Linked DNA regions of Homo sapiens. The protein of the gene in region 2 interacts with the protein of the main gene of each other region in a biochemical or structural test. Each region holds a gene or a part of one and is shown on either strand. Other genes may lie near its edges.

What was found. Proteins that work in one complex are often made in the same cells at the same time.
Region 1: the proteins of CUL2 (region 2) and TRIP12 form a complex in vitro, tested with the Homo sapiens proteins (one study listed by BioGRID).

The regions. Positions count from the first base shown.
Region 1 is NC_000002.12:229,920,168-229,923,767, reverse strand, and holds the start of TRIP12 (E3 ubiquitin-protein ligase TRIP12), read left to right. Parts: upstream 1-1,758; 5' UTR 1,759-1,888; intron 1,889-1,978; exon of another isoform or gene 1,979-2,497; intron 2,498-3,600. Other genes in the region: FBXO36 (F-box only protein 36), read right to left, coding at 1,159-1,254. UniProt on the Homo sapiens protein: E3 ubiquitin-protein ligase involved in ubiquitin fusion degradation (UFD) pathway and regulation of DNA repair.
Region 2 is NC_000010.11:35,034,602-35,038,548, reverse strand, and holds part of CUL2 (cullin-2), read left to right. Parts: intron 1-3,252; coding exon 3,253-3,377; intron 3,378-3,947.

The DNA.
Region 1 (3,600 bases), on a different chromosome or scaffold from region 2:
GTTTAATTAAAAATTTGAGTCTGACCCTGGGCCCACTGCCTATGAATTAGCCCTGCTCCGCAAGGAGCAGTACTGTTTTAAAAAAAATTTTTTTTGGACAGGCTGATTTTACATTTGTAATATTTCTAAATCTTAAATTAAAAAATATATATTAACATTTATATTTTAAAAGATGCTTTCAAAAATATAAAAAAATTAACTCATTACCTATTTTGTTTAAGGGCTCCTGGAAAAACTGAGGGAATGATCAATATGCACACCAAAACAAATATATACAAACTTCTAAATTTCATTTTATAGGAATAGTATCTATTGAAAGGGCAGGGTGCATGAATAACTCAGTGACAGGCGTAAACTCAGCCAGGATTAGAAACGTCTTCCCAATGGAGGCCCCGCTCAAGTTGAGAATTTCATGGACACAGTAAATCATCCAAAAGCCCACCTTCAATAACCAAAGTAGGCATAAAAATAGGCCGATGGTTACTTTGGAGATAATATAATCCTCGGTCTTATTGTTGTGGAGCAGATGTCATTATGGGTGGGGCTGAAGCGCAGAGCAGCTGAAACATTTTTATACCACCACCCGCACACTTTCAATGGGATAGAAGGGACTCCAAAAGGTAAGAGCTCCCAATCGTCAGTTGCTACTAGAAATAACTAAGTTTTGATGTGGCCGTGGCACGCGTAAAGGCCACAAAGAGATTTATAAAATTCTCCATGATTAATTCCTATCCTGGAAAAGAGGCAATCTCCTTTTCCCCTCCCTAGCCGGCTCCTCCTTGGGACACTTGGCTGAGTCGTTCTTTCCCTCCTTCTCACGCTGAGGTGAGGCCGCACGCAAGCCGGAGACGCCCGTTTTCCTCTTCGCGCGGAGGAAACTCTACGGGTAAGAAGCCGGGGTGGCGGGAAAGGAGCACGCGGCACCGCGGGGAGGCAGAGAAGGCTTGCCAGGGACTAGCCGGGCTCGGGGAGAGCAGGGACACGCGGGCCGTCGGACCGAGGAGGCCGAGGTGACGAGGAAAATCTCCCGGCGCGGAGCCGGGACTGGGCGCTTCCGGCGGGCTACGGTTGCTCTTGGCCTAGCACAGCCTGCGTCCCGGGCCCCAACCGGGCCAGGTAGGGAGTTAGGAGAGAGGGTAAACCGCGGCTCGCACTTGCCTGAGACCGGGTGACCAGTAACTGGTAATAGTCTTTGCTAGGCGGCGGGCCTTGTCCTACAGTTTCAAAGAGAGTCTCCGGCAGCCACGACGCCATCTTGGGACGCCACCGCCGTCGCTAAGACAACCAGGAAGGGGCGGGGCTTGGTTGGGGTCAAGGGGCCAAAACCCTAGTTTAAATTGAACCACGCTTATGAGCTGGCAGAAGGATTTCTAACTTGGGGCGATCGTCCCCTCTTCCAAGGGTCTTAGGGAACCCTGATCCGTGAAATTTCCAGCTCCAGGTCCCGGGTGACCCGAGGGGGAATTAGTTCCTGCTACCACGGAGGGGAGGGGGTGACCCCGGCGGAGGGATACCAAGTAGATCTCCACAGTCCCCTTCCTGGTCCCTCGAAGGGATCGGGCGGAGATCGGAGGCTGCTGAGAGAGTCGAGCCGGGAGGCGTGGGAGGGAGGGGCGATGTGATGGGCCGCCAGTAGGCAGCGGTGCCGGTCCCGCGGACGAGCCCGTAACCGGAGCCCGAGGACAAAGTAGTTCCCCGAGGGTGTCAGAGCAGGCGGGGAGGGAGGCGGCACGGGCGGAGGCGCACGCCGGGCGCGGTGCTGCGGCTCAGCTGATAATTGAAGGAACCCGGAGCCGCCGCCGCCGCGCCGCTGGGGGGGGTGGGGGGAGCTAGTGGAAGTTACTGCCGCGCCACCGAGTCCGGACCGGAGACTTTGGGGCCTAACTAGGTAATTGGGGCGCAGCTCTGGGCGGCGGGGGCAAGCCTTGGGGGAGGGGGCCAGCTGAGGGGTTGGGGGGGCGGGGGGAGGAGCTGGAACAGAAAGTCCCAGGAAGCCCGGTTGTGTCATCGCCGCGATTCGGCCCCCGCTTGGCCTGCTCCCGGCGCCGGCGGCGGCGGGGCCGCGGAAGGACCGGGCCGGGGGTGGACGGGAGAGACGCTCGAGGGCGGCCGCGGCCGGAGGGACCGGGGCCTGGCGGGAGGTAGGGGTCGCTGGGTCCCTCCTCCGGCTTCCCGCAATGAGGAGGGCCCTTCACAGAACCGGGGTAAGGCTTGCGGGTGTTGGGGAGCTCGGCGGGGACCAAGGGGGGCCGGAAGTGGGCTTTGGAGCTTGGAGGGTGTCTGGGAAGAGAGAAAGTGGGGGGCCGGAAGTGCAGGTGGGGGGTGTGAAGACGGCAAGGGTTCCCCGGAAATGGGACGAGGGGCCCGGAAATCGGGAAAGGGGAGGCTCCGGGGCCGTGGACGGCCCGGAAATGGAAACTAGGAAGCAGCTCCAGTGACAACAGTTGTGGGAAGCGAGGGTCAGAGAAGGGAGAGGCCAGAGAGACTTTAGACCGCAGTAAGGGGTTTCCTGCCCAGGGGGACGGCGAGGGACGGTTGAGGGAGGGCGAGCCCGGAGACGGGGTCTGCGCGGGGCAGTTTTTTAAGCCGTGGGAAGTTGAGGCTGAGGGAGGATGATGACGAGGGGGGCATGCAGGGAGGCCTAAAGAAGCCGAGAAACTTGACTGAGAGGAATAGAGTATCCTTTTAAATAGATCAGAATGGAAATTGGTGGTAGGTGGGTTTAACTAGGACTTGGGGGAGGGAGGTGGGCCAATTGTCACCCCAATCGTATTAGCATTCAGAGCGAGTCAGGCGATTAATTTATTTATATGTGGATTACATAAAACCTATTATTTACAACGTTTGTCCATCAGTTCAGCCCCTCTCCTTCCTTCTCCATAGTGAGTGGGTTTCTAGTACAGGAACAAGTTAGAGGGGAGTTCGAATAACGAAGGTAGTAAAACCTCAAATCCTGTCTTCCTCGGCGTCTCTCCCTTCCTCAGAATAAGAAATCCTTCATTTCCTAGACGGAAAAATGCGGAAAAACATAAAAACACATGTAAATCGGGGGGAAATCACACTTTGAACTCCTGGTGGGGGACAGGAGGGAATTGGTTACCTTACGTGGTGAGGAGATAACGGAAGGGGCAGCTTCCAAACCCTTAAGACAAATGTTGTGTTTTTTTGATAATGCTGTTTTACTTTGGGGGAGGTTTAGCCTAAGCATCGAGTCTGGTGGTGGGCATAGTTTAATTGCTTCTTTAGTTAATTGGGGGAGGGAATGTGTTTGTGTGTAAAGGTTGGGCCGGTGCGGGGGGAGGCGGGTACGGTTAATAGCGCAGTGAATCCGTTCTAAGTGGACGTCTAACTGCTCTCCTGCTGTCTCCTTTCCTAGTCGCGGTCCTCGATCTTGCCTGGGCTGCCAGATCACCCGATCTCCGGGCTTTACTCCGTTTTGTAGGCCCTTTAGTGATGTGTTTAACTTTATGTTCCTCTCGAGAGTCTCATTAGGTATTTTTGGCATTTCATTTTTTAAAGACCTAGCAAGTTGAGTCTCAGAGTCTCCTCTTTAAAAACAAAACAAAAAATACGGGGTAGAAAGTTGAAAGAGCTATTGAG
Region 2 (3,947 bases):
TTTTTTTTTTTTTTTTTTTTTTTGAGACAGAGTCTCACTCTGTCGCCCAGGCTGGAGTGCAGCGGCGTGCTCTTGGCTCGCTGCAACCTCCGCCTCCCAGATTCAAGTGATTCTCCTGCCTCAGACTCCTGAGTAGCTGGGATTACAGGCGCTCATCACCACACCTGGCTAATTTTTTTGTACTTTTAGTAGAGACAGGGTTTCACCATGTTGGTCAGGCTGGTCTCGGACTCCTGACCTTGTGGTCCGCCCGCCTCAGCCTCCCAAAGTGCTGGGATTACAGGCGTGAGCCACTGCGCCCGGCCTCTCTGATTTTTAAAAAAACAAAAAACATGCATTACTTTTATAGGCAGGAAAGATAATAAATATGTATATTTTATTTAATTAATTAATTTTTTTGAGATGGAGTCTCGCTCCGTCGCCCAGGCTGGAGTGCAATGGCATGATCTTGGCTCATTGCAACCCCTGCCTCCCAGGTTCAAGCAATTCTGCCTCAGCCTCCCAAGTAGCTGGGATTGCAGGTGTGTGCCATCACATCCAGCTAATTTTTGTATTTTTAGTAGAGACGGGGTGTCACCATGTTGGCCTCCTGGTCTTGAGCTCCTGACCTCAGATAATCTGCTTGCCCCGGCCTCCCGAAGTGCTGGGATTACAGGTGTGAGTCACCGCGCCCGGCCATTAATCAGGCTTTTTGTTTTTGTTTTTTGAGACGGAGTCCCGCTCTGTGGCCCAGGCTATAATGCAGTGGCGCGATCTCTGTTCACTATAACCTCTGCCTCCTGGGTTCAAGCGATTCTCCTGCCTCAGCCTCCTGAGTAGCTGGGACTACAGGCATCCGCCCCCACACCTGGCTAATTTTTGTATTTTTAGTAGAGACGAGGTTTCACTATGTTGGCCGGCTGGTCTCGAACTCCTGAGCTCGTGATCCACCTGCCTTGGCCTCCCAAAGTGCTGGGATTATAGACACGAGCCACCACCCTTGGCCCCGTGTTTTTTACAGCAACATTAATTTCATAGATCCAGGGCAATGTAGTCAAAACCCAATAATTTCATTTTAATTCCGAAAGTCACTGTCTTGAAGAGTATGATGGAAAGACTTTAATGACCAGCAAGACTTATTGTAAAACCTATAGTAATTAAGACAGTGAGGCATTGGTACAAGGACAGACAGATATCCTAATAAAATAAGAGATCCTAGAAACAACCCAAGCATATGTGGCCACTTGATGTAAGACCAAGGTGGCGCTGCAGAGCGGCAGGTAAAAGATGGTCTTTTCAACACGCATTGCTCAGTCAATTGGATATCCATTTCAGAAGAAAATGAAATTTGATCACTACCTCAAGATACCATATACAAAATCAATTCACTATTGAGTTTTTTCTCTAAATGTACAAGGTAAAAAAATAACACTTCTAGAAGATAATATAGAAGAATATCTTCATAACCTTGAGACAGGGAAAGATATTTTAAATAGGACACAAAAAGCCCTAACCACAAAGGAACGATTGATCCAGTGAACTACATTAAAATGAAAAACTTTGGATTATTAAAAGGCCATTAAGAGGGAGGAAGATTGCTTGAGCTCAGGAGTACAAGACCAGCCTGGGCAACATGACAGTATCCCATCTCTGCAAAAAAATACAAGCATTAGCCAGGCGGGGTGGTGTGCACCTGTGGTCCCATCTACTTGGGAGGCTGAGGTGGGAGGATCACTTGAATCTGGGAGGTGGTGGTTGCAGTGAGCCGAGATCCTGCCACTGCACTCCAGCCTGGGTGACAGAGTAAGACCCTGTCTCAAAAAAAGCCATTAAAACCACTGGATCATCAGAAGACAGTTATAGGGTAATGTACCTGCAATACTAAAGATTTATATCCAAAATATAAAATGCTCAAAAAACAGGCACTGCAGAATAGAAGATACCCAGATGGCCAATAAACATAGAAAGAAGTGTGAAGTAGCAGGAACTTGTTGAACACTGAAGTGAGAGTATAAATTGATGCAACTACTTTGGGAAACTGGCACTGACCGCTAAGTGGGATATATTATGCATATTTTATGATCCAGCAGTTCTCCTAAACATATAACCACCCCCCAGCTTTACCTCCCCACTGCCAATGCCTGGACATATATACAAAAAGACATACAGGAATGTTCATAGTAGTGTTTGTAATAGCTCCATAAACTGGAACAGCTCAAATGTCCAGTTACTGTAGAATAGTACAGTATATTCATACAATGGAATATTATAGAGGAGTGGAAATGAACAAATTAAAGCCATGCACAACAACATAGATGATCCTTATACACATGTTGAACACAAGAAGCCAGACACGAAAGAATTGTGTGATCCCATTTTTATACGTAGTTCAAACTCATCTGTGATTTAGAAGTCACAGCAGTGGTTACCTTTGCAGAGGAGCAAGAGTGTGTGATTGGAAGGAGGCATGAAGGGGACTCCTGGGTGTAGGTAATGCCTGTTTCTTATCCTGCGTGTGATTACATGGGTGTGTTGTGTGTTCACTTGTGATAATTCAGTAAGATATACACTTATGGTTTGTATACTTTTCTGTATATGTATGATGCTTTAATGAAACGTTTAAAATTAAACCTACTACACTGAGAGATCATTATTCACCTCCCAGTGTTAGAGATCAAAACATTTGGCAACACATTGTTGGCAAAGGAACTCTCTGCTGTTGGCAGCTGTGGTTAGAAGGATCTGTCTACAAGATTAAACTTTGACACAGTAACCTCACTTTTGGGAACTTATATTGCATATATTCTTGCTCATGTATAAGATTATTGATTGCAACATTGCAATATCAAGAGACTGGAAACCACCTAAATTTCCATCAGTTGTTAAGAAATTATATCCACATAATGGAGTACTGTGCAGCTGTAAAATACATAGAAATGCTTTGTGTACTGATAGGAAAAGACCACTAAGTTAAAATGTGTTCTGAAGCTACAAATAATATACAAAATACAGTACACTGTATTAAAAGGGGCAAAGGGAAGAATATATGTATTCACTTGAATTTGCACAAAATATCTTTGGGAAGATGTTAAATAACCACATCCCTTTCCTGTGGGGAGAGGGGCTTGGGTGGCTGGGAGGTGGGCATGGGGGACTTTTCTCTGGGTGCTCTGCACTTGGATCCGTATATTGTACTCCTGCACTTGGATCCATATATTACCTAATAAATGAAAATATTTGGGAGTTAACCCTCAGATGTCTTTTTCCTCTCAGACATGGCAAATATGTACGTCTTACTCCGTGCTGTGTCCACTGGTTTACCTCATATGATTCAGGAGCTGCAAAACCACATCCATGATGAGGGCCTTCGAGCAACCAGCAACCTTACTCAGGAAAACGTGAGTTGTGTGGGAAACTGCAATGTTTTCCTCCTAATCAGATCCAGCGTGGAGCCTTTCCTTTGACTTTATTGTTTTGAAAGATGAAAGAAAAAGTCTTACCATGCCAACGAAAGAAATGTCTTTATTCAAATGTTTTAAACCTAGAATTTGTTGGACTCATTTTGGAATTATCAGATTATTAGAAAGCTATTGATAGGCTGCTGCTTAGCCATACGGAGGGTGTCCATTGAACAGTTGTTAACTTTCCACAGGAAAATAAGCTCGCCATTTTTAAATAACTGTGTTTTTGTGTAATTGGCATTGATAACGTAGTTTGTTGTCATGGTAGTAGTATTAATCAGTGGTAATATAGACGACTTGCAATTTGCCTCCTTTCCATATCCTCTGAATTTGGTTGTCCAGGAAGCAAATTTAGATTAAAATAATCTTCTGTAAGTATATGCTTGCTGCCCCAAATACCCAAAACAATAACCCTCATATCCCTAATACTCATCTTTCTCGAATACTTTGCCAATCACATGACTGTAACAGTTTGTACTGTAACAGTTTGTCTTTCCCATCACCAAA